Homo sapiens: one gene and its partners. The protein of the gene in region 2 purifies or fractionates together with the protein of the main gene of each other region. This does not show direct contact. Each region holds a gene or a part of one and is shown on either strand. Other genes may lie near its edges.

Evidence for each region.
Region 1: the proteins of CDC26 (region 2) and ANKRD22 purify together in Homo sapiens (co-immunoprecipitation; one large-scale study listed by IntAct). This does not show direct contact.
Region 3: the proteins of CDC26 (region 2) and ANAPC7 purify together in Homo sapiens (affinity purification with mass spectrometry; 5 studies listed by BioGRID and IntAct, with this or other methods). This does not show direct contact.
Region 4: the proteins of CDC26 (region 2) and ANAPC4 purify together in Homo sapiens (affinity purification with mass spectrometry; 11 studies listed by BioGRID and IntAct, with this or other methods). This does not show direct contact.
Region 5: the proteins of CDC26 (region 2) and ANAPC2 purify together in Homo sapiens (co-immunoprecipitation; 7 studies listed by BioGRID and IntAct, with this or other methods). This does not show direct contact.
Region 6: the proteins of CDC26 (region 2) and ANAPC1 purify together in Homo sapiens (co-immunoprecipitation; 6 studies listed by BioGRID and IntAct, with this or other methods). This does not show direct contact.
Region 7: the proteins of CDC26 (region 2) and ACOT8 purify together in Homo sapiens (affinity purification with mass spectrometry; one large-scale study listed by BioGRID and IntAct). This does not show direct contact.

What each region holds. Positions count from the first base shown.
Region 1 is NC_000010.11:88,848,797-88,853,645, forward strand, and holds the start of ANKRD22 (ankyrin repeat domain-containing protein 22), read right to left. Parts: upstream 3,049-4,849; 5' UTR 2,812-3,048; coding exon 2,791-2,811; intron 1-2,790.
Region 2 is NC_000009.12:113,266,275-113,270,062, forward strand, and holds the end of CDC26 (anaphase-promoting complex subunit CDC26), read right to left. Parts: intron 1,166-3,788; coding exon 989-1,165; 3' UTR 718-988; downstream 1-717. UniProt on the Homo sapiens protein: Component of the anaphase promoting complex/cyclosome (APC/C), a cell cycle-regulated E3 ubiquitin ligase that controls progression through mitosis and the G1 phase of the cell cycle.
Region 3 is NC_000012.12:110,375,899-110,380,145, forward strand, and holds part of ANAPC7 (anaphase-promoting complex subunit 7), read right to left. Parts: intron 1,946-4,247; exon of another isoform or gene 1,807-1,945; intron 1,720-1,806; coding exon 1,495-1,719; intron 319-1,494; coding exon 168-318; coding exon of another isoform or gene 164-167; exon of another isoform or gene 1-163. UniProt on the Homo sapiens protein: Component of the anaphase promoting complex/cyclosome (APC/C), a cell cycle-regulated E3 ubiquitin ligase that controls progression through mitosis and the G1 phase of the cell cycle.
Region 4 is NC_000004.12:25,383,281-25,387,527, forward strand, and holds part of ANAPC4 (anaphase-promoting complex subunit 4), read left to right. Parts: coding exon 1-113; intron 114-4,247. UniProt on the Homo sapiens protein: Component of the anaphase promoting complex/cyclosome (APC/C), a cell cycle-regulated E3 ubiquitin ligase that controls progression through mitosis and the G1 phase of the cell cycle.
Region 5 is NC_000009.12:137,173,741-137,178,764, forward strand, and holds the end of ANAPC2 (anaphase-promoting complex subunit 2), read right to left. Parts: intron 4,377-5,024; coding exon of another isoform or gene 4,328-4,376; intron 4,042-4,327; exon of another isoform or gene 2,098-4,041; coding exon 1,968-2,097; exon of another isoform or gene 1,776-1,967; coding exon of another isoform or gene 1,733-1,775; coding exon 1,497-1,732; exon of another isoform or gene 1,415-1,496; coding exon 1,202-1,414; 3' UTR 1,044-1,201; downstream 1-1,043. UniProt on the Homo sapiens protein: Together with the RING-H2 protein ANAPC11, constitutes the catalytic component of the anaphase promoting complex/cyclosome (APC/C), a cell cycle-regulated E3 ubiquitin ligase that controls progression through mitosis and the G1 phase of the cell cycle.
Region 6 is NC_000002.12:111,772,694-111,776,940, forward strand, and holds part of ANAPC1 (anaphase-promoting complex subunit 1), read right to left. Parts: coding exon 4,166-4,247; intron 1-4,165. UniProt on the Homo sapiens protein: Component of the anaphase promoting complex/cyclosome (APC/C), a cell cycle-regulated E3 ubiquitin ligase that controls progression through mitosis and the G1 phase of the cell cycle.
Region 7 is NC_000020.11:45,847,012-45,851,258, reverse strand, and holds part of ACOT8 (acyl-coenzyme A thioesterase 8), read left to right. Parts: intron 1-2,583; coding exon 2,584-2,809; intron 2,810-4,247. UniProt on the Homo sapiens protein: Catalyzes the hydrolysis of acyl-CoAs into free fatty acids and coenzyme A (CoASH), regulating their respective intracellular levels. Displays no strong substrate specificity with respect to the carboxylic acid moiety of Acyl-CoAs.

The DNA of each region.
Region 1 (4,849 bases), on a different chromosome or scaffold from region 2:
CCTGTATTCCCTGACTTCTCCTCCTCAACTGTACCAGCTTTTCCAATAAAACTTGCTTGATCTAAATTGCTCTCCCTAGGCATTGTATATTTCAAGACAATCTTTCTGTTTTTTGAACTATATTTCCTTTTTCTGTAGTAACATCAGCTTCTCTGAAAAACATATCCATTGCCAAAGGATTAATTTTAAGTTTGTGTGTGTGCATGTGCATGTGTGTGTGTGTGTGTGTGTGGGTGTGTGTGCATCCTTTTACTTACAGCCTTATAATGAGAACTTCCCAATGTTTAAAGGAATACATCATTTAAGATATGATTTTCAAGAAACGCTTTTTGGGGCCTGTGTCTGCAACTGAAGAGACCAAAAGTCTGTAAAAGATTCTTTAAGTCTCCTAAGTATTAGTTCCTGAACTCTTTTAAGTTCTCAGCATTTTTCTTCTTTCCGATTTTTGTGCTACTTCACAATGCAACAGTTCTCTGTTGCAAGGTAGCAGTAGAATGTACCTCATTGGACCTGGATTTAGTTTACTCATTCTTTCCACTAAGGGAACAGGGCACCATCCTGGTTAGAACAGTGGCAGAACACCAGAGTGGTTAAGACCAATTCTCTTATGGAGCATGACATATCTGTTGAAATAACAAGTAGTAGAAAAATTTAGTAGTTCAGCAGTGATGTAAGAAGAATCTCTTTGAATGAGTAAACACAGGACTCATCCTAGCCACCAATCTCCAGCCAATAAGCACTTTTCAACTGTGTAACTATGAGCCAGTGACTACCTTTTCCTCAGTTTCTTCATTTGTAAAATAAGGATACTAAAAGTGACTCTTACAAGATTGCTGTATTAAATGAGTTAATACATATATAAAGTGCTTAAAATAGGGCCTAATCTATAAGAAGCCCTAAATACATGTTTGTTGCTATTGTAAATATTATGAACAAATACCTTTGATAAGGGTTTAAATGAATCAGCCTTGTTTAAAAGTCCATCTTACGCAGTTGGAGTTACTTATTCAAAATTAGGGCCTCTCACTGAGCTCTAAGCTTATCCTCTAGTGCAGATTTCAGGACCAGCTCTCTGGGATCCTCCCTCATTCTCTCCTTCTTTCTTAAAAATATATATTGCATAACTATTAGCACTGCAAAGCTCTAAGGAAAAATGATAACCCTATGTCCCCAATCTAGAGGAGCTTCCCGCACTCAAATTGGGGGAAGTTTTTTTTTTTTTTTTGAATAGATTCTTCCAGGCAACATAGGACCAGGGATCCAGCAGGCTTTTTTCTTGTCCTTAATGAGTAGCTCACAATCTTTATCCTTAGGAAACACAGAGCAAATGATATATTACAAATGAGTAGGCTATGTTTAAATATTTAAGAGATTACTATTTAATTTTAAAGAGTCTCAAACTCTTTAAAACTATAGATGAAAGGTCCTACTTCCAACTTTCTACATCAGAATACCTGAGGATGAGACTAGGCTTTTTTTTTTCCTTTTTCCAAATCACATATAATTCCCACATGCAATCTGAAAAAGCAACCAAAATGCAGAATCTTAGGTCCCACCCAGGTCTACAAACTAAGAATCTGCATTTAAACAAGACCTTCAGAAGATCTGTATAGACATTAAAAACGGGAAAGCACTGGCCTGTGGCAGTCTTTCTTTCTCAGGATGGTGGTAAACAGATCACCCCTATGTCAGAACCACCTGGGATGCTCCTTTTAAAAAGTATACTTTTGTATCCTACCATAGACTGAGTGAAACAGACTCTCTGGGTTGGAGTCCCTTGAAACTGCATTTCAAACAAACTTCTCTCCCTGACACTTGGGCAGTCTAAAGTTTGAGAGTTACCAGAGTAGCATTTAAAAGCACTATATGTTTTGTCATTTTCATGTATATGATCCCTTCATGAGGCTAAAATCACTGAGCAAGACATACCTAGAGTTATAAACCAATCAAACACTGCATTTGCACACACGGAGAGATATATACACACATGGCATTAGAAATAACTGCAAATAAACTGTCTTTAATACTAGATCAAAACTATCCAAGAAGGTTCCCCTGAGCATCTGCAATGAAATGCAGATTAACCAGTTAATTGTGTCAGAGGAGAGAGAGAGTAAATTATGTATAATGACATCATTACACCTCTTGTACTCTTGTCTAAACATTCCTTGCTTGTACTTTCTTGAAACATCATTAAAAATCCATTTGATTCTAATAAGTTACTTCCAATACAAGTAAAAGTACCTCAGTATTTATCAGATGTGAAAAGAAAATAATCAAATCATCAAAATATGTTATTATTCCTCTTCTTCATAGTGATAGTCTTTACTAATATTTACTAAAGGTGAATCTCCCTTCAAATACCAAGCTGAAAGGCATTACTCTGGTCATGTGGTTCCATAAAAGAGGCAGTCAATCTTTTGGATATTTAGAAAATCCAATTGAGTACAATTTTCTCTTTTTCTCTGAGTGTTTGTCATGAGAAAAGCACAACTCAAACTCGATTTTGTCCAAATTATCCTTGCAAACATCCAGATACTATGAAATGTGTATTATATTCATCTCAACTTAGATCTAGCTAATATTTTAGAATTACAAAATACTTTGTCTTAAACTATTAAGAATATCAACAAGAATAACACATAGGACTTTATTTTTTCTGACTTAATGCTCCCCCAGGGAGTTGAACAGACAAAACAGAAATATATTAACAGGGATAGAAAATTGCATCTGAAAAGCATGAGTAACTTTTAACATCTTTGGAACTCTGCTTTCAGAAAGGTGATGTACCTCAGAGTATAGGATTCCCATGCTGGTCCTTCACAGGCTTACTTCACCTCTACAGCTCCTTGAATCTTCTGGAGGTATTTCTGATGAATATCAAAATCCTTCCTGGCTGAGAGGAAAGTCCCTAGAAGTCCAAGCTGGTGGCAAGCTCCAGGAGTGCTTTTCTAGCAAACACCTGTCAGTGCTTTTCCAGCAGCTCAGGCAGCAGCACACCTTCCAGAGAGCCCAGCCCAATGAAACAAAGGCACTGGTGTCATGTGTAACGACCCAAGCCTGTATCATCTAATGTTACAACCCTGAGGAGCCGGTTTCTGAGTCATATTTGCTCTGCCAGTGGTAACATGCAGGAAAGAAGGAAGCAAAGTTAAGGGAGGAAGAAAAGTTCTTACATTGGCAGGAAGGACTCACGGTTCAAACCAAGATACTGTATTTCAGACATTTCGTAATCAAAATCTGGTTTTCAGTGGCCATTGAGAAAGGCTAGAGACCAACAAACTTACTTGTGAGAGCCACACGTGTCTGGCAAAGAACTTGAAAAATAATCTTCAAAATTCTCAGCCTAACAAGTAACGCTTTTCCAGCTATTTATGCAGTTTTGTAAACTAATAAATTTACTAACATAATAAATCTTAAGTTGTTTTAAATATTCCAATACTATTCACACATTTAGCCAAATTACTTTATAATATTCAATTTAAAAATCATAAGTCTAAAATCAAATACTCTGTTATGCATTTTAAATTGCATCATCAATTTATTTATCAAACATGCTAGTATGCCCAATCTCTTAAATATTGTAAACATTTTATATGCTATATATGATATCATTCACACATTTTCCTTGAACTGAATACAATCACATCAAACTTTCCCAGAATTGAAACACTCGACCGTCCACACACCCATTATAACCATGGGACCAGCCCAAATGGGCCGTACTTTGTTGATAACAAATGTCAATTTACTCTGTAGATATAACAGAGCCAAAAACTGTAAGTCATTTAGCCCAGGCATGCACAATAAAAATGTTTTTGCCTCTAACAGAACCTAGAACAAATGATCCCTCCCCTGGGAACCAAGAAGACAAGGACATGACGGGAACCTAAATGCAGGACCTCTTTCAGAAGCTAGGGGCTCATTGGCCCAAAAGATCCAGGGCTGAAATCTGCCTCAACATACCTTACCTTTAGTGGTCAAATTTGAAGCCCTTCAATCAGTCCCTGCCAAACCAACATTCCTAAATCCTTTCCCTCACCCTCTAAGCCATACATTTTCTCAGATTCCAAACTGGGGAGGCAGATTTGAGCCCACCTCCTGTCTCCTTGCTGACCTGTCTTGCAATAAAGTTTTTCTTTCCTCAAAACCCAGTGTCCAGATATTGGCTTCTGTGAGCAGGGGGCAGCAAGCCTATTTGCTCAATAATATCATGGAAGAAATAGTTCAACCATCTCAAACCAATTGATGTGATTTTCCCAATCAGTTGAGGCTCCTTAGTGGCCAGAAACTAGTGACCAGGATACTAGGCCTGTGCTTATAAATATTCAGGGAAATTCTTCTTACTCCACTGGTGGATATACTGAGCTATTTTTATAATTATTTCAAAGATTTTATGTTTCACTATGCAGTTGACATCGAGGCCAGCCTCTCTGGAGTTTAAGAATTAGCTAATTCTTCCGTTGGAGGAGAGGGAAGTCTGCAATACCCACTAAAATTGCAGCTGACTTCCTCTTTGGCTTGGTTTGATTTTGTATTTCTGTAGACTCTTAAGACATTTAAGTGTCTTCCCATTGACTTAGAAAAACATTAATGGTATATCCATTGGGTACTTCACTCTGTTATGCAATATTTTGTAACCTCTGGTAGCCTCTTTTGTAACCTCTTTCAACTAATTTGTGTGGACAGAACTCTTCACTGTCATTGCTTCTCTCCTAAGGTTGCTGCTAGCTTTCTTCTTCAAGCTCTTTCCTCCCTGACTGAGCTCTAAATGTTTCTTTAACTTTCAATCAGGATCAAAACTCATTTTATTAGATTCTGCATCTCTTGACAACATCTGGTTCTAAAG
Region 2 (3,788 bases):
TCCCCCTCGTATTACTCAGACTTAAACTACCCCAAAAAGGCTAAAGTCCTGCTAAGAGTCTCCGTAGAACTGATGATTCAAGAGGCTCTTATGATCACAGCTGGTGATTCCCTGTGTTGAATTAGTGAAAACAGGCCAGGCACAGTAATCCCAGCACTTTGAGAGGACTGCTTAATGTCAGGAGCTCAAGCCCAGCTTGGGCAACACAGATGCCTGTCTCTACATAAAACAATAAAAATTTTTAAAAAAAATTTTTTTTTAATGCCCAGAACAATAGGGCATGATTCAAAATTATCCTCCGAGCTGCCTCTCTGGTTCTTTCTGGGAAAAACACTTAGGCAAGTTGAGAAAGGAAGGAAAGTTGGAATAATGGCAAAACTGTTAGAAGCATTCCTCTTTCCTCCATTGCCTGTCCTCCCAACATTATACCCAAACTAGTTACAAAGCCATTCTGTAAAGAGATCGGGTACCTACAATTTCTTCAGATTTACACAATATCCACTAGAATTTAATTTCTACAAGGGCAGGGATCTTTGTTGAGTGGCACATGGTAGACACTCAATAAATACTTATTGAATAGATGGGTTAAGTGAAAGTGGCAGGGATCAACTAGAGTGTCCTGTGCTTAGGGTCTTTTAATAAAGATGGAAAGAATGATGTTAATCTTGTAGCAATTATCTTTTAAAGTCTGGGAATTAACAGTACTGTTATACTTCATTAAGGATGCCTCACATTTTTCCAAAAATATATTTATTTTTAAAAACAGAAAATCAGATCAGTTTTATAGAGTCAAATTTTCAAGAGACAAACCAGAGTTTGGATTCCAGCTTAGAGTGCAAGTGAAGCATCAGTAATCTCATGCAGAAGATTTGTCTCTGCAGGAGGTACATTCTGCTTGACTGCAAGCACTCAATTCTCTAAATCTGGTTTGTACTTCTGCCATCATTTTATTCCATTCCAGCGCTCTGGCATGCAAGATAATCCATCTCTAAAATTCAAGACTTCCAAATTGAGATGAACGATTATTGGGCTTGGGTTGGGGTTTATAACCAATCCGATCATTGATCATTTGTTCCCGGCTCTTGGGATCACTGCTAAGCCCAATGGCTCCTTCTCCATCACTGCCTCCTACAACTTCCACATCTTCCTTCTGTTTCTTACGGGTCTGAAAGTATAAAAGTTTTAGGATTAAGGCAACATTCTTTCAATTAGCAAATGTTTATTTAGAACACCTACCATGTACTAGGCATGGGCTAAATGATAGAGTTAGGGTGTAAAGAACAATAAACTGAAATCCTAGGTTTGGAGTACTTAGGGGCACAATGAGGATATGGTGTTAAAAGTTGTAACCCCTGATCACTTGAGGTCAGGAGTTCGAGACTAGCCTGGCAAACATGGTGAAACCCTATCTCTACTAAAAATACAAAAATTTGGCGGGGCACGGTGGCTCACATCTGTAATCCCAGCCCTTTGGGAGGCTGAGGCGAGCGGATCACGAGGTCAGGAGATCGAGACCACCCTAGCCAACATGGTGAAACTCCATCTCTACTAAAAATACAAAAATTAGCTGGGCATGGTGGCGCATGCCTGTAATCCCAGCTACTTGGGAGGCTGAGGCAGGAGAATCGCTTGAACCAGGAAGTCGGAGGTTGCAGAGAGCTGAGATGGTGCCACTGCACTCCAGCCTGGCGACAGAGCGAGACTCTGTCTTAAAAAAAACAAAAGATGTAACCCCTACCCTCCAGGATGTCACAGTCTAATAGGGAAACAGGCAAACAGACGATTATAGGGTGATCAGGGCTATGACCTATGACAGAGAGAAGTCTACACTGCCAAAGAGACAAGAGGTAAGGAGTTGGGGTGTGGTGGTACAACAGGAAGCTACAATTGGAAAGCTGTAAGAGCAGACAAGTGAGAGCAAAGGGCATTTCAACAAATTTATTATTCTAGAGAATAGAAAAATAAATTGGGTAAAGAAATAACCACCAAAAATCTATAGCCTGACTGATCCCATGAGATTAAAAGTAACTCAAGAAGGTTTTATGCTATCTTATCAAAAGGTCTGGGTTTTGTGGCTTCATTTTGTTTTCAGATAAAAGGTTTGGCTCCTAAGTCACATGTGACTGCAGAATCCAGAAAGTATGTCTTAGTTTGATCATTTTCAAAAACAGACACTTATCCCATAACAGCCACTACCTGACTGTAAGGATAACAGATGATAACTTTCTCTAAGAGAGTGAAATGATGTTTTATCCAAAGTTACTTAATAGAAGAATGGCTCAGCTACTCAAATCACTGGAATTACCACCATTCTTCACCACTTGCTGCTGAACTGTGGGCATTTAAATGCCAAGCATCAGGCTGACCGCAGTGGCTCATGCCTGTAAATCCCAGTGCTTTGGGAGGCCAAGGCGGAGGATTGCTTGAGCCCAGGAGTGTGACACTAGCCTGGGCAACATAGTGACACTCCATCTGTCTCCACAATTTTTTTTTTTTCTTTAGACTGAGTCTCTGTCTGTTGCCAGGCTGGAGTGTAGTGGCGCCATCTTGGCTCACTGCAACCTCCGCCTCCTGGGTTCAAGCGATTCTCCTGCCTCAGCCTCTCAAGTAGTTGGGACTACAGGCGCATGCCAGCACACCTGGCTAATTTTTGCACTTTTAGTAGAGACAGGGTTTCAACATGTTAGCTAGGATGGTCTCAATCTCTTGACCTCGTGATCCGCCTGCCTCGGCCTCTCAAGGTGCTGGGGTTTACAGGCATGAGCCACCGCACCCGGCCCACAAAAAAATTTAAAAATTAGCCAGGCATGGTGGCGCATGCCTGTATTCCCAGTTATTCAGGGGGCCTGATGTGGTAGGATCACCTGAGCCTGGCAGGTCAAGGCTGCAGTGAGCTGTGATCATGCCACTGTACTCCAGCCAGGGCGACAGAGCAAGACCCTGTCTCAACAATAAAAATAAAAAAAAAAAATAAATGCCAACACTCACAAAGTATTACAGGGAATAAAATAAGGTATTGCCTTTTATGTGGCAAATGACCTTCCTGATTACTAGTAAGTGATGTTAGAAAGTTCTACCTAAATACCTTTGTGAAAACAAGTTCGAAAAGGCAAACAACTCTATCATTCTGAGAATATCCAAATGGAATGAAATCACTTAAAAGGCTTCCCACTTTGAGCAACTGCTGTTTCAGAAGCTAGAGTCACAGTAGTATAATCAAACTCATGTTGGTAATAAATGAAACAGGCCAGTTTTCTACTGGTTTCACTTTAGGGCATGACTGTCCCTGCTTCCTAAGTTACTCTAAAACAAGGTAAAACCCACTAGATAACTGTCTTTAGTGGAAAGACTAACTCAATAGTGAGCTGACTGTAGAGTCAAAGTTCAGCATGCTAGCATTTTATGAGATTCGTTACAACTGAAGTTTAAGCCATACTTTAAAGCTCATGCTTAATAATATATGAGTTTTTAGAAAGCAAAAATTACGATACTTAGAGAACACTAAAGTCTCTTGGGATGAAGCAGGGGGAAAGAAATCTAAGTTATTAGTCTTAATATGAAGCATATACAATACATAATAAAGCTGTTGGTGAATATATGCAAAACGTACTGTCCTCTGCCATATAGTACAAGATACCTACTAGGACAGCAAATGAAAATAGACTTGCATTGAGCCCTCCTTTGGACCTGGTATTGCAGGGAACAGATGCAGAGAGAAATATACTAATCCCTGACTTCAAGGAGCTTATGGCCCAGTGAGGGAAAACAAAAGCAAACAGACAATTACA
Region 3 (4,247 bases), on a different chromosome or scaffold from region 2:
TTTTTAGAAGTCATGAATTCACAAATAACTCTTCTACCATTACTATTATTATTCTGCTTTCAACCATGGACACAAAGTGTGTGTGTGTTTCCATAACTCCTGTGACACAGCTCACTGCCTCCTCTACCCTCCTCAGTGGCCTTCCCCCAAGGGAGGCTAGTGCCTACCTTAGTGCTATACTATACTGGTCCATTGCCTCCTGATACTCATTGACAGCTACAAGGAAATCTCCTAGGATCCGATGCAGGACACAGTCACTCTGATTAGCCAGTGCGTTCCTCAGCAAAGCAATTCCATCTTCATATTTCTGTTCTCTGCCTGGGGGAATAAAAAAGACCCTCACTTAAGTCATGTACAAAAAAACCACAACTACCATTCTGACCATCTCTTTGCAGACATCCTCAAGAGAACACTGGTGCAACACAAAGCGAGGGCAAGCACACCTGAAGCCCTATTCAGTTAAGAAATTTTCCATCCTGGCTAACACAGTGAAACCCCGTCTCTACTAAAAATACAAAAAATTAGCCGGGCTTGGTGGCAGGTGCCTGTAGTCCCAGCTACTCGGGAGGCTGAGGCAGGTGAATGGCCTGAACCCAGGAGGCGGAGCTTGCAGTGAGCCGTGATTGTGCCACTACACTCCAGTCTGGGCAACAGAGCGAGACTCCATCTCAAAAAAAAAAAAAAAAAAGAAATTTGCAGTTTGAATTATAATGTTTTAAATGGGCTCTTAACTTTAAAAAGCCAAACTGCTTTGCCAACTAGCCCAAATTCAATGAACCAAATTATGAGTTTATCATAAATCAGGACTGAAAAAAAAAAAAAAGGGCCAAACGGGAAGTCATAAAATCATCCAGATAGCTCCACTCAAAATGGCTAAAATCAGTTAGTTATATTCAGCTCCAACTAATTCAGGACAACTCAAACCAGATAACAGTGAGCCGAGGCTGGGCACGGTGGCTCACACCTATAATCCCACCACTTTGGGAGGCCGAGGCGGGTGGATCACAAGGTCAGGATTTCGAAACCGGCCTGGCCAATATGGTGAAACCCCATCTCTACTATAAAAAAAAATAATAAAAAATAAAAAAATTAGCTGGGCATGGTGGTGCACGCCTGTAGTCCCAGCTACTCAGGAGGCTGAGGCAGAAGAATTGCTTGAACCCGGGAGGCGGAGGTTGCAGTGAGCTGAGATCGCACCACTGCACTCCAGCCTGGGTGACAGAGCAAGATGCCGTCTCAAAAAAAAAAAAAAAAAAAAAATTAGTGAGCCGAATAGATACCAACCAATTATAGGTGGTTGGAACCAAGCCAAGCAGATCTAAGCCAGCTACGTTTGGTTGGGCTAAATATAAACCAATCCAAGCAGGCTCAGACCTGCTGCAAAAGGCACACACCTGTCTAGTCATCTGTAACTAGCTGGGACAAGGGGCTCCAACTGAGGTCAGGTTTTATAAAAATTAATGATGAACAGGACAGAAAATAAGACACACTTACTAAGTAGTTCTGCTTTTTTCACCACAGCCTTAATGTAATCTGGCCTTTGGGTCAGGGCTTTATCTAATAATGTTTTGGCTTTCTCCTGTGTCACTGGGTCTTCAAGACAAACGGTGGCTAAAAGGGTAAGGGTCTGTGCATTTGCTCCCAGAGTTTTGTAAACGTTGTTAGCCATTACCATTGCTTCTCGAATACTGTTGGAGGCTAAGTAACATTCGATAAGACCTGAAAAAAGTAAAACACGTGAAGACATTCAATGCCATTACCATTCCAACCCATGCTTCCACTCTGACAGCTCTCCAAATTGCTAACCTTCAAAGTTTCAGACAAAGGGCAGGCCACGGGAAACTGATGGTGAGATTAGACTGGCAAGAGTGTTGATGGAATAGCTAAGAAGTGCTCTTCCCCAGAGAACTTGATGGATGTAGAAAAAGACTGCCTTCAAAGGCACCTTCAGTTTAGGGAAGGAAACAAGCACATGTAAGGAACCTGCAGCATGTGAGCACCCCATCTGACCACTGGAAGAATAAATGCGACACTAATGATTAGTCTGTCATATGGCCAAGAGATCAAAGTAGTGAGAGATGATGTTCCCAACAAAACCCAAGGTTTTGCTGCCTCTTAACAAGCAGTTATTCTCCAGCTGCATTCGGTCACCTGTAGGGCTAGGTTTAAGATGGAAGACTCCTAGGGTCTTTATTTTATTATTTATTTTTTTTGCGACAGAGTTTCACTCTCGTTGCCCAGGCTGGAGCGCAATGGCGCCATCTCGGCTCACTGCAATCTCCGCCTCCCGGGTTCAAGCGATTCTCCTCCCTCAGCCTCCCGAGTAGCTGGGATTACAAGCATGCACCACCACACCCGGCTAGTTTTGTATTTTTAGTAGAGACGGGGTTTCTCCATGTTGGTCAGGCTGCTCTCGAACTCCTGACCTCAGGTGATCCGCCCAGCTCAGCCTCCCAAAGTATTAGGATTACAGGCGTAAGCCACCGTGCCTGGCCTGGCTCCTAGAGTCTTAAAGTGAATTTACAGTTTGACAAATAAAGGACTTATTGTCAAGCAACTTAGGGAGAAAGACTCTTTTATTTGAAACGTAACAGCTGTCTCAAAAGGCACTTGCTGAGGGCTTCCCTAAACGAGATGAACAGTACTTACCACATGCACCAAACAGACTGCAACTGGCAGCCCTTGCCTCTTTCCACACCCACAGCGAGACGCCCTATGAGGAGGCCACCTTGAGAAGAGTCAACTCTCAACTCTTCATGCCAGTAAGTTGAGGAGAACAGAGGAATAACTTTTTGGCACAAAGTGCTCATCAAAACAAAAAAACAGCTTAAAACCCCAAACCCACACAATCCTTGGCAGATTTTCTCTGCATACTCCTCCACCCTAGCAGCATTTATAACATTCATGCACACCCTTCCACACACTATGGTTACTTAACCAGAAATTACCTAACTCTAACTATTTTTTTTTTTTTTTTTGAAATGGAGTCTTGCTCTGTCACCCAGGCTGGAGGGCAGTGGTGACATCTCGGCTCACTGCAACCCATGTCTCCTGGGTTCAAGCAATTCTCCTGCCTCAGCCTCCCAAGTAGCTGGGACTACAGGCGTGCACCACCATGCCTGGCTAAATTTGTTTCTATTTTTAGTAGAGATGGTAGTTCACCATGTTGGCTAGGCTGGTCTCGAACTCCTGACGTCAGGTGTTCCACCCGCCTCAGCCTCCCAAAGTGCTAGGACTACAGGCATGAGCCACCATACCCAGCCAATTACCTAACTCTTAAGGGCAACATGTTGGATTCCACATACAGTTGTTTGCAATTACTTACTGAATAGTTTTACTTCCCTGCTAAAGCCCTACTGGAACTTCAGAAAAAAACAGAATGCACTTGCCTAACCTAAATCTCTACCAGCAAAAGAAGGAAGCTCCAACTGGAAACTGTAAGAAATATCAAAGGGTGTAGTCAGAGTTGCCCTGACCTAAATCTCCAAATGGCAGCTTAAGAAGCCTCACTGGCCAACTGGGAAACATCCGCTGTCCAAATATTATAGGACGGACTATTCAACCGCATCCCTGAGCTCTGGTGAAATAGGCATGCAGTATAATGGAATTAACATGATTAACAGCAGCTGGGAAGACAGGGAAGTTACAGTTTCAGGATCAAGAAGTTAATCTGAAATCAATGGTTGGTTTGCTAGAGCTTCTTTCAGAACAAAGACAATACTCTTTCCCCCTCAACAAATCCAGAGGCATAGCTCTCTGGCTATATAAGCAGATTTGTTCTCTTTCCCAACATCCAAATTTTATTTCTCAAATTTGAACTCATCTTCCTGTTAAGAGCAAATCACTCCTAGACTCCTAGGTTTATTTTTAAATGCTTATAAAAATATGTTTTGGAGGAACTGCATCTTGTAAGATCTATTTTAATGTCTGTGACTGAGTCACCAAACGTTGCTGAAACTGGCACAGCTCCTTTGAACTCCCAGGGTCAATTCACATGAACTTAAAATATTACATAACAAAACAAAGTTGGACCCTGATTGTGCCCACTCTGGAGGTCACAATGAACAGACCCATTCCCACAGCCAACACTATCATATGGATGTGGAGTTATCCCACGAGTACTAACTCTGGCCCAAGGTAAGATGGCCACGAAAAAGAATAGGCCTAACAGGCCATGTACAGTGGTTCACGTCTGTAATCCCAGCACTTTAGGAGGCTGAATTGGGCAGATCACTTAAGCCCAGGAG
Region 4 (4,247 bases), on a different chromosome or scaffold from region 2:
GATACCAAGAAAATTGTTTTGTGTGATGTAGAAAAACCTGAGAGCTTACACTCTTTTTCTGTGGAGGCTCCAGTTTCCTGTATGCATTGGATGGAAGTGACAGTAGAAAGCAGGTAATTAGAAAAACTTATGTAGTCATAGGGTATTCATGAGATTTTTATTTTTTGAAATGGAAACTTAGGAGTATCTGAGTATTGGGTGTATGTGCGTTGTATTTAAATTTTGGTTTCAGTTTATCAAGATGAAATTTTTTAATGCTTTCTTAGATTTTTTTTTTCCTTCCGATAAACATCTATAGGCATACCTCAGAGATATTGTGGGCTTGGTTCCAGACCACTGCAATAAAGTGAACATTGCAATAAAAGCAAGTCATTTGAATTTCTTTGTTTCTCAGTGCATGTAAAAGTTATGTTTATATTATGCTATAGTACATTTAAATGTGCAATGACATCATGTCTAAAAAAATTAAGCATGTAACTTAATTAAAATATACTTTATTGCTAAAAAATGCTAACGATCATCTGAGCTTTTAGTGAGTTGTGATCTCACTGAAGGTGGAGGATTTTGCCTTGGTGCTGACAGCTGCTGACTGATCAGGGTGGTGGCAGCCGAAGGTTAAGGTGGCTGTGGCAATTTCTTAACATCAACAACAGTGGAATTTGTCACATCAGTTGACTCTTTCTTTCAAGAAAGATTTCTTTGTAGCATGAGATGCTATTTGATAGCATTTTACCCAAGGTAGAACTTCTTTCAAAATTAGAGTCAGCTCTCTCCAACTCTACTGCTGCTTTATCAACTAAGTTTATGGAATATTCTAAATCCTTTGTCATGTCAACATTGCTCATAGCATGTTTACCAGGACTAAATTCCATCTCAACAAAGCACTTTCTTTGCTCATCCCTAAGAAGCAACTCCTTATCCGTTCAAGTTTCGTCATGAGATTGCAGCAGTTCAGTCCCATCTTCAGGCTCTACTTCTAATTCTAGTTCTCTTGCTATTTCCACCAGATCTGCAGTTACTTCCTCCAGTGAAGTGTTGAACCCCTCAAAGTCATCCATGAGGGTTGGAATCAACTTCTTCCAAACTCCTGTTAATGTTGATATTTTGACTTCTTCCCATGAATTGTGAATGTTCTTAATGACATCCAGAATGGTGAATCCTTTCTAGAAGGTTTTCAGTTTGCTTTGCCCAGATCCATCAGAGCGATCGCTATGTCAGCTCTAGCTTTATGAAATGTTTTTCTGAAATAACAAGACTTGAAAGATGGCCAGGCACAGCAGCTCATGCCTGTAATCCCAGCACTTTGGGAGGCCAAGGTAGGCAGGAGCTCAGGAGTTCAAGACGAGCCTGGGCAACATGGTGAAACCCTATCTTAAAAATTAGCCAGGCGTGGTAGCTATAGTCCCAGCTGCTCAGGAGGCTGAGGTGGGAGGATCACCTGACCCTAAGGAGGTTGAGGCCGCAGTGAGCCGTAACTGGACCACTGCACTCCAACCTGGGTGACAGAGTGACCTGTCTCAAAAAAAAAAAAAGACTTGACAGTTGAAATTACCATTTGACCCATACGATGCAGAATGGATTTGTGTGTTAACAGGCATGAAAACAACATTAATCTTATATATCTCTATCAGAGCTCTTGGGTGACCAGTCATGAATGAGCAATAATATTTTGAAAGGAACCTTTTTTCAGAGCAGTGGGCCTCAACAGTGGATTAAAACATTTAGTGAACCGTGCTGTAAACAGATATGCTGTCATTTAGGCTTTGTTGTTCCATTTATAGAACACAGATGGGATAGATTTAGCATAATTGTTAAGGGCTGTAGGATTTTCAGAACAGTAAATGAGTTTTGGATTCAACTTAAAGTTACCAGCTATGTTAACCCCTAAAAAGAGAATCAGCTTATCCTTTGAAGCTTTGAAGCCAGGCATTGACTCCTCTCTAGCTATGAAAGTCCTAGGTGGTGCTATATTTCACTGGCTTTAAAATACATACATACGTATACATATATATATCTCTATATGTATATATGTTTTAATAAATAAATAGAAAATCCTCGATGGCATCTTCCAATAAAAGGCTGTTCTTCTCCATTGAAAATCTGTTGTTGAGTGTAACCACTTTCTTCAGTGATTTAGCTGGAAGTTCTGTATAACTTGTTGCGGCTTTCTCTCAGCACTTTCATAGAATTGAAGAGAGTTGGGGCCTTACTCTAGATTAGGCTTTGGCTTAACAGAATGTTGTGGCTGGTTTGATCTGTCCAGATCACTAAAACTTTCTCCATATCAGCAGTAAGGCTGTTTCACATTTTTATTTTTTTTGTATTTACTGGAGTAGCACTTTTAATTTCCTTTAAGAACTTTTCCTTTGAATTCACAACTTGGAGGACTGGCAAAAGAAGCCTAGCTTTTGGCCTAATCTTGGTTTTCAACGTGCCTTCCTCTCTAAGCCTAATCATTTCTAGCTTTTGATTTAAAGTGAGACAGTTGAACACTTAGAGGTCATTGTAGGGATATTAACTGGTCTGGTTTCAATATTGTTGTGTCTCAAGGAATAGGGAGGCCTGTGCAAAGGAAGAGAGAGGGAATGGCCAGTAAATAGAGCAGTTAGAACACTCACATTTCTCCATTTTTTAAAATTTATTTTTATTTATTTATTATTTATTTTTGAGACGGAGTTTCGCTCTTATTGCCCAGGCTGGAGTGCAGTGGCGCCATCTTGGCTCACCTCCCAGGTTGATTCTCCTGCCTTAGCCTCGAGAGTAGCTGGGATTACAGACATGCGCCACCACGCCCAGCTAATTTTGTATTTTTAGTAGAGATGGGGTTTCTCCGTGTTGGTCAGACTGGTCTTGAACTTCCGACCTCAGGTAACCCGCCCGCTTCGGCCTCCCAAAGTGCTGGGATTACAGGCATAAGCCTCAGCGCCTGGCCTTATTTATTTATTTTTTGAGACACAGTTATCATTCTGTCACCCAGGCCAGAGTGCAGTGGTACAATTTCAGCTCACTGTAGCCTCTGCCTGCAGGGTTCAAGTGATTCTCCTGCCTCAGCCTCCCGAGAAACTGGAATTACAGGTGTGTGCCACCATGCCCAGCTAATTTTTATATTTTTAGTGGAGACGGGATTTCACCATGTTGGCCAGGCTGGTCTCGAACTCCTCTCAAGTGATTTGCCCTCCTCGGCCTCCCAAAGCTCTGGGATTATAGACGTGAGCCACCATACCCAGCCGAAGCTCACCATTTTATATGGCCATGGTTTGTGGCACCCCTAAACAATTATAATAGTAACATCAAAGATTACTGACCTCAAATCACCATAACAAATAATATAATAATGAAAAAAATTGCAGTATTGCAAATATTTCAAAATGTGACACAGAAGTACAACGTGAGCACATGGCTGCTGGAAAAAGGACTCCAATAGACTTGCTTGGCTGATAGACTTGCTTGACACAGGGTTGCCACAAACTTGATTTGTGAAAAATGCAGTATCTGGGAAGCAGGATGAAGGGAAGCACAATTGAAGGAGATATGCCTGTATTTTCTTGTTGAAGCAGTAAACCTGAATAGCTAAGAGTTTTCTCCTCTTTCTAGTCATTTCATACTCCAAAAATAGTTACTGAGGCACAAAAAACAAAGCTCTAGACGAGATAAATGGTGAAATGGAAAACAACCTCAATTTGCCAATCAGTAATTTTAAAGTTTTATTAATTAATACATATATTAATTTCCATTTCATGATTTATATCATCTGGAACTTTTTTTTGTGTCTCAGTAAGTATTCTTAGAGTATGAAAAATGCTAAGTTGAGCATTCTGTCTAATGCTGGACAGGTTTTTTCTTTGTCCATGGTCCTGATAATTTCCTTGTTTCATAAAAATAATTCTGCATTAGTGTGTGTAGTCAAGTAATACACCAGGGTTGTAGTGAAGAAGGCCGGAGGAATCAGTGGGTTTGGCTAATACTGAAAACAAAAATTGTTTTTCTTTTTTGGGGAAATATGCTAATTTTCTTACCATTAACTTTTCCTTTCTAATTAAGTTATACTAAGGTAATATCAAATGAATTTGTAAATCCTGAATATTAATTGCCAGCTTTCCTAAGGGAAGCCTGAAAGAATTGGATGACAAGGGTTTGACCTGGGGTTTGAAATTCACTGTAGATAAACCAGAGTGATAAATCCATCATCAGATAATGAAGGATTACAAATCGTTATGTGAATATGTAGAATGTTAGAGGGTCAGAGC
Region 5 (5,024 bases), about 24 Mb from region 2:
GTGGGAGGGTGCTGGGCGGCAGCTGCAGGAACCCACGACAATGGACATGGGACCAGCAAGGGCATCAGGCCAGAGCTGGAGAGGTGGGAGGGTGCTGGGCGGCGGCTGCAGGAGCCCAGGACCGTGGACATGTGGGAACCAGCAAGGGCATCTGGGGACAGCGGTGGGAGCACTGAAACCAGGCGCAGCTCACAGCCTGGGAAGGCGCTGCAGCAGGAGCGGGACTCGAGGCACCAGTTCAAAGGGCCTTTGTCCCCCGCGAGGACGGCGCCATCGGGGTGGAACGTGTCTGGCCTGGAAACGGCACCTCTGGGACAGAGGCCCAGGTTTGAGCAGCAGAAGAGCCCAGAACTGGACCCTAGGGCCCTTGCTCAGTTTTGTGGCGTCTCCCTCTCCTAGTGCCAGCCTCTAGGACAGGACCTGGGCAGCCTGCACACGCGTGACCACACGTGTGAAGGACGTAGGGGCGACCTGCCTTTCTGAGGCACACCTGTGAAGCTGAGCCCTCCGGCCACCCTGCCTGAGTGTGGAGCAGGGGACAAGTGCCCAGTCCCTCTGGCCACCAGGGCACAGCCTTCGGCAGAGCCTCACTGCCAGAGACGAGGCGTGTTGGCCTAGAGGTCATTCGCCAGCCTCAGCAATTCCAACCGAACCCGCACAACGTCCCAACCTCGCCCGAGACCTCCTGGCCGAGCGTGTGGAGGTGGGCACAGGCTGAGCAGAGGGTGACCCCAGGGCTCCTTCTAAAGGCCAGAGGCGCAGGAATGGAGCTGGAGGTCTGGCGGGTAGCAAGCACTAAGCCCTAGGACGTGGCTGCCTGAGCCGTGGCCCGGGCGTGACGTGGACCTTCACGTGCCGCTCCCTGAGCACCCTGGGTCGGGGGCGGCCCGGGATTCTCTCAGGAGGCTACATTCCCAGTGCAGATGTGTAGGCCTAGGTGGCCCCTCACCTGCTGCTGAGGAGCAGGCCCTGCCAGGCTGAGAGAGAGGCCCAGGCTAGAGGAGGATCCTGGGGGGCCCCACAAAGCCACCAGGACAGAAAAGGATGATCTGACTTGCTTTAATCTGCACACTGCGGGGGTGGGGGTGGGCATGCTCCTCAGCAGTGCATTCTGGGACACGGGCGGGCGGGGGCTGGCACGGGAGGACGAGAGCACCTGCAGGGCAGCGCCTGGCGGGCGGGCGGGCGGGCGGGCGATGTGTCAGCTGCAGTTCTTGGGCAGGCGGTAGACGCCGGCCGAGTAGACGAGCTGCTGGTCCCGCACCTTCTTCTGCAGGTAGCCCTGCAGCTCCTGCAGGTCAATCTCGGCCAGTGCAGGCCCAGTCACCACAAACATGCGGAGCATGTTGTAGATACGATCCAGTGAGAGGCTCTCCAGGTTGGTCAGCATGGCCTGGATGTACGTCCAGAAGAGCTGCGGACACAGGCCAGCCCCCGTCAGGCACCTGCAGGCCTCGCCCCCGCCCCCTGGCCCCCCGTGGGGCCTGCACGCGCACCAGCAGCTCCTCCTCCTTCTGGTCGGCCTGGGAGGCCATGCCGGAGTCGCTCTCGTCGTCACTGTCAATGAGCACCATGTTGTCCCGGTCCTGAGGCCGCTCCTCCTCAATGACAGAGAAGGTGCCGGGGGGCTCCTCACGCAGCACACCCTGCTGCAGCCACACGGACATCCGCCGCCGCAGCAGCGCCACGGGCATCTTCACCGCCTTGCTCAGTTCCTCCAGGGTCCAGCTGGCTGCGTGCAGAGTCACCGGGACGCTGGGCAGCCTGGGCACGGGCTGCACCTCCCCTGCCTCCCGTCAGCCGAGAGGTCGGGGGGCTCCCGGGCCACCCTGCCTTGCCCGTGGGAAAGGGAAGGGTGCCGCCTGCTGGCGCAGCTGCCCCAAACCACACCCTCACTGGGGAACAGCCCCTCACCCACAGCTGGGCCGTGTGGCCGGGGCAGGCCAGCTAGGGGCTGGTGGGCTCACCTTGGTCCTGAAAATACAGCAAGATCACCGCCTGTACTGGGGTGACCGCCACAGACAGCGTGCGGTCGGCCAGCTCCACGTCCATGGTCACCAGGCCCAGGGTGTGCTTCCAACTGAGGGTCCGCATGGCCTAAGGAGGGCCAGGGTCAGCACGGGCAGCTCGGCTGCAGGGCGCTCAGGCCCGTGGGCTCTGCCACCTGGTACCAGTGAGAAAGGGGCTCCCAGAGCCACCTGCCCCACCCCACCCTGGCAGGCAGGTGAGCAGCGAGAGCACAGGACTGGGTGGGGTCCCCACCTGCTCAGCCACCATGGAAGGGCAATGGGGCCAGCATCATAAGGTGTGTCCCGAAAAGGCTACAGGGGCCTCCTGACCCCCAGTGCTTGGAAATGTGGCCATATTTGCAAACAGGGTTGATGCAGATGTAACTGAGGTGCATCCTAACCCAACTGACTGGGGTCCTTCTAAGAAAAGGAAAGATAGGAAGACACAGGCAGGCGGGGAGGGGGCCACACGAAGACAGAGACCACCTGGAGCAACGCGGCCACAAGCCAAGAAACACCAAGGGCTGTGGCAAACACCAGAAGCTGGGGGGCAACGGAGGTCTCTAAGAGGGTTCAGAGGGAACGGGGCTGCCAGTACTTTCATCTTGGACTTCCAGCCTCCAAAACTAAGACAATCTATTTCTGTTTTTTAAGCCACCCAGTTTGTGACACTTTGTTACAGCAGCCACAGTAAACGAACAGATTTTGGTACCAGGAAGGGCCAGGAGGGGTGCTGCCAAAACCTAACACCAAGAACTGTGGCAGCAGCTTTGGAAGTGGGTGATGGGGAGAGGCTGGAAGAACTGGTGAGGCCTGCACGACTGCTGGTAGAAAGGCATGAAGACAAGCCTGGAAATGGCTGGAAGAGGAGAGCTGCCGCCGTCTTGGAGAATGCACACAGCATCACAGACTGGATGTCGGCAGCAATGCCGACCCAACAGGTGCTTCCAGTGAGGTCTCAGATGGAAATGACCGTGCTACTGGGAACCGGAGGAGGCAGCAGAGAGCTTGGCTGGCTGCTGCTCTGCTGTTGGGTGCGAAGTGGGACCTGCAGCTGATGAGCCTGGACATCAAGCTGAGATTTCCAAGCAGTGTGGAAGGTGCCACCTGGCTTCTCCTTGCTACTTATAGCAGAATGCAAGAGGGAAACAATCAGTGAGGCAGGGACCATTAAGCAAAAAGGCACCAGCCCTTGGGGATCTGAAAAATACTCTATCCAGGCAGCTCTGAGACGTGGCCAAGGGTGTGGCTGGACCAGGGTTTGCTAGACATGAGGTGTGACCTGTGTATCCAACTAACCATCTCAGCAGCAGACAGGGACAGGTGGGGCCTCCGGGAAAGGGCTGCGGACCCGCCTGTCTGAAGGCTTCGGCACTGGTGAGCTGCATAAGCCAACAAGGTGTGAGAATTTTACACCCGCAGAAGTGCTGCCAGGCTGGAGTGAAAGGAAGGCAGGCTCCAAGAGCAGAGCCGCCGAGGCCAAGGCTGACGGAGCAGGGGGCCAAAGAGGATTCGCAGGCCTGGAAGTCAAGTGGAATTTCGGCTGCTGGGTTTGGACTCGCTGTCCTTTTTCCTCCCAGTTTTCCCTTTTGGGGTGGGAATGTGTATGCTTGTCTTACGGCTGAACTTTTGAAACAGATCATCTGTTGGCTGATTTCACGGCGTCCCAGCTGGAGGAATGGCGCGCACTCCAGCCTCACCTGTACCTTGTTTAGATCTATTTACGTAGAGGAATGGCGCACACTCCAGCCTCACCTGGACCTCGTTAAGATGCATTTACAGGCTGAGATGTGTGTGGAACTTTGTGTGGATGGTAGTTAGATGAGATTTTGGACTTGGAGTTGATGCTGAAATGGTGAAGACTTTTGGGGACACTGGGGCTGTCACTTGCACGTGGGAGGGGCCCACCATGGGGCAAATTGTCATGCACTGAATTGTGCCCCTCGAAAAATGACACATGAACCCCTAACTCCCGGTGCCTCTGATGAGATCTTATTTGGAAATACGGTCATTAAAGATATAATTAAGATGACGTCACCCTGGAATAGAGAGAGTGTTCTTCTAAGAGGGAGATAGGAACAGAGACACGGGGGAACATCACGGGCGACGCGGCAGAGACCAGAGCGAGGCACCCACAGGCCCCGGAGCTCCTGGAGCCCCCAGAAGCTGGAAGAGGGGAGGAAGCAGCCTCCCCTAGAGCCTTCGGAGGGCCCTGCTGACCCTGACTTTAGACTTCTGACTTCTGTAAAATGATATGTTTCTTTTAAGCCCGCTGGTTTGTGGTACTTTGTTCTGGTAGCACTGGGGCACTGACACACCTGCTCTGTGGGCCAAGGGCTCCTGAGTCCTTCCAGGATCCGGCAGCTTCTAATGGAAACAAACCCCTCTTTATGGACAGAAAATGGAAGTGGAGTCAGTGGCTTGCTAGGTCCTAGTTCTGGCTCCAAGGCCATGACCTCCACAAACGCCGCCACTGGTCAGCCTGCCGCAGGACACATGCAAGGGCTCAGGGGTGACGCTGTGGGCTGCATGGCCAGCCACGTGTCCAACAAGGTCGCTCGGCCAGGAGCTCTGCTGGTGGGACCTCTCAGCACAGCCCCGGGGCCTCCCTGAGCCACTCCTGTGTCCCACTGAAGTTAAGACAAAGGGCACTAGAGTGTGGCTGTCCCAGCACATCAGGCCTGAGCAACAGGAAGTGGCTGAGTCATGCCTGGGACCCAAGGCAGGACCCTGGAGGGAGGCCATTGGGGCCTTGCCTGGAAGCAACGCTGGAGAGCCTGAGGCAGCCAGAGGGGCAGGGGGAAAGGGACCGAGCACGGAGCCGGGCCACACGGATGATTTGTACCAGAACACAGCGGGGCACGGTGCCCGCAGGCTCCAGAGACACCAGGCTGTATCACAGGCCAGAGCTCGAGGTGTGGGGATGGCCAGGGTGCTCCTTTCCACCGAGAGCAGGTGCAAGCCACACAGACCCTCCACAAGCTGCAAGGGACACCTGGACTCTTCCAGAGCCAA
Region 6 (4,247 bases), on a different chromosome or scaffold from region 2:
GACACAAACAAATGCATAATTACAAATTGTGAGGAGTGCTATAAAGGTGCAGTGGTCACTGTGGTTGTCTCCCCGAAATACCCCTTGTCACACCCTACCCTCCACCATATATTATATTTGATGGGACTGACTTCAGCTCCAGAACTAGATCCTTACTAGTCTTGGCCAGGGGTCCTCAAACTTTAACATGTGCCAGAATCACCTGGAAGGCTTGTTAAACCACAGATGAGTGGGCCCCACTCCATGCACAGAGCACAGAGATTCTTATTCAGTAGGTCTGGGGTGGGGCCAGAAAAACTCCATTTCTAACAAGTGCCCAGGTCATGCTGCTCCATAAACCACACTTTGAGAATCACTGATCTTGGGTGATCAAGGCAATCCCATTCTCCTGATGCAGTGTTAGTTCAGAGACAGGCAGACCCAGGCCATTTTTTCAATAAGAGACATTCTCTGCCACAGGGATAGATTGAGAGGTGTGCATGAGATGCAACTCGAGCCAGAAACCTGAGGAGGTACTTAATGACAAGCTTGCTGGAGGCTCCAGGGAAAGAAATTCCCTCATTCTCATCACAAAACTCCTAGAAGCAACTCTATTCTTCCTCTGAGTATCATGCTGAGCTAGAGGTGAACATGTTACAGCCATTTGATTACCATCCGAAAAATGCACTGAGGATAAAGTCATGGCACAGAATGTAGCTGATGGAACCTCAGAGAAATGGAGTTGAAGACACTGGAAAAAGATGACCCTTTACGTGCCTTACCTGCAGACCTCTAATAACATAGGCATACTTGTGTCCTTACTGTTTAAAGGCAGGTTAAGTCAGGCCTTCTTTTACTTGCAAACAAAGGCATTTTGATACAGAAAAAAGGTAGAGAGCATGAGCGGGCAGGCTAAAGATGTCAGGAAAGCTGCCTGAGGGAGAGTGGTCTTGGAAGGCCTGGGAGGAAATGCCATTAAAACTGAGGCTGCATGGATAAATATGAGTTGGGCAGGTGAAGAATGAGAGGAAAAGGTTCTAGGGAGGGAAAACAGCATATTCAATGGCCCCACAGTGAAAAGGAGCTCAGTGTTTTTGAGTAAGTGGAAGGGGCCAGGGTGGTGTGGGGAGCAAGTGGTGTAAAAGAGGCTTTGTTGAGGAAAACAGGCGCCTTGCAGGTCACACAGGTCCTGGTGCCACACAGTAGGGATTTCTTTCACAGCTGAATCAGGAGCCATTGAAAAGCTTTAAGCAGGAGTGTTACATCAGTTTATTCTTTAAAAGACTGTTCTGTCAGTTAAATTGAGATGGTTGGAATGGAGATGAGAAAAAGCAAGGAGGCTATTTAGGAGGCTATAACAGTGGTCCAGGCACAAAATCATCATTCTGTTCTAGGTAGAAATAGTAAAATGTGGACAAATTCAAGAAATATCTATGATGAGGATTGAAAGGCATCAGCAATGGGTCAGCTATTGCAGAGAAGGGAAGGAGGGAAAGGAGCAAGGATGACTTCCAAAAGGGTCAACAAAGGAGTGACAGTGAAATGGTGACAAATACTGAGAATTTTTAAAGAGGATTTTTTTTAAAAATTGGGAAAGTGTGCTATGACAAAGTCAAGGGAGGCTCATTTCAAGAAGGAAAATGTAGCTAAAAGCCTCACCATTGTAGAGATGGAGTGAGATGAAAACTGTAGACTCCACTGAACACAGTTGTGAGGATGTCAGTCTACTGGGAGGTGGAAACATTTAGGTTTGGGGGAGGCAGCAGAGGGAGAAAGGTTAAGGGAGAACAGATGAGATTCTTCTTTGAACAGCTCATCATGAAGGAGAGCATGGTGGTTCAGCCTCTCTTCAATGACTTTCTCATGTCTACCAGCATTTTGTTTCACTGATTTTCTCTATTGCTTATCTGTTTTTGGTTTCATTGGTTTCTGCTTTTATTTGCTTGCTTTGGGTTTACTTTGCTTTCCTACTGCACTTGACAAGTCTTAAAAAAAAAAAAAAAAAAAAAGGACAATGCCAAAAATTGCATTGCAATCCACTGCTGGTGGGAAAGTAAAATGGCACAATTTGGAAAATTGAGTGTGGCAATGGGTGAAGGTACAAATGACGCAAAAATAGGAGAATGCTGGCAACTATTAAAATTGGTGTTGTGGTTTATTACACTAGTCTACTTACTTTGTATATTCTTTAAATTTCCATAACAAAATATGAAAAAGTTAATAAAACTTTTTAAAGTTCTTAAACTTGAAACCCGCTTTCTTTGCCCAAAATTATAATTTGAGGAGATAAATACTGTACAAAACATTTATATAGGCCAGGCGCCATGGCTCATGCCTGTAATCCCAGCACTTTGGGAGGCCAAGGCACGTAGATCATGAGGTCAGGAGTTCGAGATCAGACTGAACAACATGGTGAAACCCCGTCTCTACTAAAAGTACAAAAATTAGCTGGGTGTGGTGGCGTGCACCTGTAATCCCAGCTACTCAGGAGGCTGAGGCAGGACACTCGCTTGAACCCAGGAGGTGGAGGTTGCAGTGAGCTGAGATCGCGCCACTGCACTCCACCCTGGCGACAGAGCGAGACTCTGTCTCAAAGAAAGAAAAAACAAAACCGACATTTATATAATATAAATTGGCTGCATTTTCAGATTAGTGTAGTGATTTAATGGGTTATCTCAGATCTAATGAGTTGTCAGTGAGTGATCCTGAAAGTCCACATATGCATCTGTGATTTTTACACACAAATATGAATGCAATTTCCAATTTTCAGTTAATTTATTGTTCTCTACCCCAAAGCCAACTGCTAGTGCTTGTAAGAGAGGAGACTATATATTTAAGAGGTTTTGTTTTAAAAAAAATTCTAGTTTTTCACTAAAAAATAAACACATTTTTGATAAATCTGTGTGGCAAGTCAAATTCAATGGAGGCTGACAGCAATGCTGGAAACCACCAAATGCGCTAAAGAGCAACAAGGCAATCAGGGCCCTGTTTTAGAGAATGTTCTAATCACTGCCAAAGTTCCATACATTATATGAAATGTGCAAATCAGGGAATCTGCAAAGATTTAAGGAAGTATTTATTATCAATAGCAAAGGTCTGCCATAGGTGATCAAATGTTAAATTGAATAAAAACGAAACACGAAAACCTTTGAAATAACATGTTTTTCCCCAAAAATGAGGATAAAAATGACTATCCAAAAAATTATGAAGCTATATGATCTTTGAATCTGAACAGGAAATGACAAATACAATGCAGCTTTTAAATATAAACATGGAGAGTCTGAAATCAGGCTTTCCAAGTATATCCCTCACAACTTGGTTTACAATTTAATTTTTTTCAGAAATTTATTTCCTAGTGTTACAGGTGGATAGTTTTAAACTCAATTATATTCAAACGCTTAGGGTCTATTGATTACTAATAGTTTTCACTAATCAAAGCAAGAATTGTTTCTACTACTATTACTAAGGTTAGTATTAACCCAAAGCAAGCAACTGTCAGATATTTACTGGGAGCATTTGAATGAACTAAAAAGAATGAAAAGATCAAGGAGTCTACTCCTGAAAATCAGTTTCAGGTGTATTTAACACACAGATACATTTCCATAAATCTAAAGGCCCCATCGCTTGCCTCATGTAAGTCAGAATCACTTCTACACTGTTAACGAGTAACTACAATTTCCTTGCAATCACAAATCCTGCTGATAGAAAGCCACCACTGTGACATCACATAGCTGTGCGGTCCCAGGTTTTCAAAACTGAGTTGGTACAACAAGCTCACTCAGCAAGCACACGTCAACTTCTACATGTACATGTGGTGCCAGTACAAAAACAGGATGGCTGCTGGCCTCAGGAAGGCAACAGGCCACACCCCTAGGAAACAGGAGACAGAGGCACTGGAAAGGAAATGTGACCTGATGCTAGGGAAGAGAGAACAAGGTCCTGAGCACCAAGTGGTATTTAAAATGCTATAAATATTATCTGCCTGGGTCAGATGTATTTTACTAAAGAAGCTAAAGTAGATAATCAAAGTCTAATTCATCTAGCTGGAAACGTTAAATCTATAGCCATTCTTGCTTATACTCAGATTTATCTTGCTTACCAATGAAAAAACAAAGTTACAACAGAAAAGCCTGAACCGAATGTATCTCAAAAGCACAAGAGCGCTATGCTACAATGCTACTATTACCTTGTAGCCACTGGTCCAGGGTATTATCAATGGTGCACTTCACAACAGGGAGGAATTCCGAGTTCATAAAGAGCCCCCGCTT
Region 7 (4,247 bases), on a different chromosome or scaffold from region 2:
GCCTTTAACCTTGAGGAGCTCGCACTCTGATAGAAGTGCTGCTGGTGGCAGTGCCTGATAACAGAGAGCTGAGCAAGCCAGTTGACCTCAGACAGTGATGTTTATTGCTGTTGATTGAGCCCTGGTGCCTGGTTGACTCCCCATTTGGATCAGAGTGAAGGAAGCAACACTTCTCTAGACCTGCTTCTTTCATCTGAAGGTTGAAAGTCATCCCCAAGATGTCTCATGGCCCAGATGTCAGGGTTCCTCAAGGTCAGCCTGACTCAGACAAAGTGAGAACTTCAGGGAAACCAGGGAAGTTCTCTTCCTCTCCAAATCTTCCCTCACCTGCTTGTTGTTGGCTGCCTTATCCCTGGCCAGTGCCTTCTACTCTGGTGGTGGTGGTCTTGTTGTTTTTGAGACAAGGTCTTGCTCTGTCACCTAGGCTGGAGCACAGTGACGCAGTCATGGCTCACTGCAGCCTTGATCTCCTGGCCTCAAGTGATCCTTCCGCCTCAGCCTCTTGATTAGCTGGGACTATAGGCACATGCCACCATGTCCAGCTAATTTTTATTTTTTATTTTTTGTAGAAACAGGGTCTCCCTGTGTTGCCTAGGCTCTTCCACTCTGCTTTGGAGCAGAGACACCTGACAGTGAAGGACCAAATGGCTTCCATATACATCAGGGGTGAAGTGACTGACAGTGGCCCTTGCCTGGGAGAGGCTGAATATACAAACAGACAATGGCTAGACCATGTAGAAAAACAGAACTCTGACGCACAATAGCAGCAACCAGCACAGGAAGCCAGCCTACTATCCACAAGTCAGACTTGTAGGAAGTCAGACCACTATCTTTACCAACCAGTCCAGCAAGCCAAATAATGACCACTGTAACAATTGGCCTCCAAAGCCAGGACTTGATTAATAACTGATAGCTGCCCTAATTTTTGCCCCTGCTTCCAACTTAGGACCAACCGGAGAAAGCCAAATATGTACTCCTAACCAATCACATAGGATGTCCCACTCTTTTTTGAGACAGAGTTTCACTCTTGTTCCCCAGGCTGGAGTGCAGTGGTGCAATTTCGGCTCACTGCAGCCTCCACCTCCCAGGTTCAAGCAGTTCTCCTGCCATAGCCTCCACCTCCCAGCTTCAAGCAATTCTCCTGCTGCAGCCTCCCGAGTAGCTAGGATTACAGGTGTGTGCCACCAGGCCTGGCTAATTTTTTGTATTTTTAGTAGAGACAGGGTTTTGCCATGTTGGCCAGGCTGGTCTTGAACTCCTGGTCTCAGAAGATCTGCCCGCCTCAGCCTCCCAAAGTGTTGGGATTACAGGTGTGAGCCACCGTGCCCAGCCAGGTGTCATGCTTCTAGTTAGCCCACCAACAGCTTCCCCATGCCAACAGCCTGCAATGGGAGCATCCCTGAAGCCTTTTTTTCCACTACAGAGCATTCCCATTCCTTTGCCTGCCTCTAAGTCTCTGCCAAAAGCAAGTGATGGTGGTTGACTTCCTGCTACAACAAGCTCTGATTGGCTGGGCGCAGTGGCTCATGCCTGTAATCTCAACACTTTGGGAGGCCAAGGTGGGTGGATCAGTTGAGGTCAGGAGTTTGAGACCAGCCTGGGCAACACAGTGAAACCCCATCTCTACAAAAAATACAAAAATTTGTTGGGTGTAGCGGCGCACGCCTGTAGTCCCAGCTACTTAGGAGGCTGAGGCATGAGCATGGCTTGAACCTGGGAGGCAGAGGTTGCAGTGAGCCCAGATAGCGCCACTGCACTTCAGCCTCGGTGACCCAGCGAAACTGTCTCTCAAAAAAAAAAAAAAAATTAGCTGGGTATGGTCATGCACCCCTGTAGTCCCCCCCCACTCAGGAGGCTGAGTCACAGGAATCGCTTGAACCTGAGAGGTGGAGGTTGCAGTGAGCCGAGATTACACCACTGTACTCCAGCCTGGGTGACAGAGCAAGACTCCATCTCAAACAAACAAAAAAAAGAACAAGCGCTGAATAAATAGCCTTTGTTTGTTCTCAAAAAAGAAAACAACAACAGAATAAACAGTAAACAGGCTGCAGGCTAGATTTACTGCTCCCTGATCTAGAATAATGGTTTTGGACTGATGACAAGATCCCAGGCATAGATGGAGCAAGATAGAAGCAAGGAGTATTAATTTTATTTAACAAACACATATAGAGCCCTCACTATGTGCCAGATATTATTCTAAACACTTTACAACTACGGATTCATTTCATTATCATTAAAATCCTGTAAGCGATGAGCACCATGATGATCCCCAGTTTGCAAATAAGCACACTGCTCAGAGAAGTGAAGGGTCACACGGCTGGTGAGTGGTGGAGCCAGGATTTGAATGCAAGGAATCTGTCAATGTCTCTGCTGTTTGTGCTGTTAGAGAAAAGCTCCACCTGCACAGGGAGAAGCCTGATGACAGGGCCTGGTGGTCTCTGTATCCCTGGGCCTGGACCTTAGCAGACCTCAGTTAGTAGTCACTGAGATGAAATGGAATGGAAGATGAGTAGTAGAGTGCCTGTCAGGCGTTGTGATGATGACAGGGCCTGTGGACCCACTGTGTCCTTGTGCCCACTGCAGGGGACCCGAAGCTGCCAGTACTGTACCAAGTGGAGCGGACACGAACAGGGTCGAGCTTCTCGGTGCGCTCTGTGAAGGCCGTGCAACATGGGAAGCCCATCTTCATCTGCCAGGCCTCCTTCCAGCAGGCCCAGCCCAGCCCCATGCAGCACCAGTTCTCCATGCCCACTGTGCCACCACCAGAAGAGCTGCTTGACTGTGAGACCCTCATTGACCAGTATTTAAGGTGAGAGACCTGGAGGCTCCATGGCAGACTTTTCAAAATGCAGCTGCTATCTGTTTGTGGGTCATAGAATCCTTTAGTGGGTCTTGACCAGCATTTTTAAAATACAGATTAGAAAAGAAGATACTGGAGTGAATAATATGTATGTATTAAGGGCAAGAATCCTTTTGTGAAACTTGAGGTTTAGTCATGTGTGTTTCTGGTGTGTGTCTGTACTGGGTCATGGTATAAAATGAAGGGCTTGGCCGGGTGCAGTGGCGCATACCTATAATCCCAGCACTTTGGGAAGCCAAGGCAGGAGGATTGCTTGAGACCAGGAGTTGGATACTAGCCTCGCCAACATAGCAAGACTCCATCTCTAATTTAAAAATAAGGCTGGGGCTGGGTGTGGGGGCTCATACCTATAATAACACTTTGGGAAGCCCAAGTGGGAGGATCACCTGAGCCCAGGAGTTCAAGACCAGCCTGGGCAACATGGTGAAACCCTGTCTCTATAAAAAATACAAAAATTAGCCGGGTGTCGGGGCATGTGTCTGTAGTCCCAGCTACTTGGGAGGCTGAGGCGGGGGGATCACTTGAGCCTGGGAGGTGGAGGCTGCAGTGAGCCGAGATCGTGTTACTGTGCTCCAGCCTGGGCAACAAGAGCAAGACTCTGTCTGAAAAAAGAAAAAAAGAATATATATTTTGTTGTTGTTTATATATATACATGTTTGTTTGTTTTTGAGATGGAGTCTTGCTCTTGTTGCCCAGGCTGGAGTGCAGTGACACCATCTCGGCTCACTGCAGCCTCTGACTCCCAGACTCAAGTGATCCTCCCGCCTCAGCCTCCCAAGTAGCTGGGATTACAGGCACCTGCTACCATGCCCAGCTAATTTTGTATTTTTAGTAGAGATGGCGTTTCACCATGCTATCCAGGCTGGTCTCAAACTCTTGATCTCAGGTGATCCACCCACCTTGACCTCCTAAAGTGCTGGGATTATAGGCATGAGCCACCATACCTGGGAAAAAAAACCATATATATATTTTATATATATATGTATATAGAAATACTTCCGTAACCACTTGTTAAGTACCACCTCCCCAGCCCCCTAAGTGATTCCCTCTCTCCCCCAGGCCCCTGGTCCAGCAACTTAGGACTTAATGCACACCAGGAGTGAGTGTCCTCTGGAGAGCTGCAGCGCTATGGCCTATGTTTGGTCACTGCCTTTGCATTAGTGCATGTTTTTGTTTGTTTGTTTGTTTTGAGACAGAGTCTCGCCCTGTTGCCTAGGCTGGAGTGCAGTGGCATGATCTCGGCTCACTGCAACCTCTGCCTCCCAGGTTCAAGCAATTCCCGTGCCTCAGCCTCCCAAGCAGCTGTGATTACAGGCACATGCCACCATGCCTGGCTAATTTTTGTATTTTTTTAGTAGAGACCAGGTTTCGCTATGTTGACCAGGCT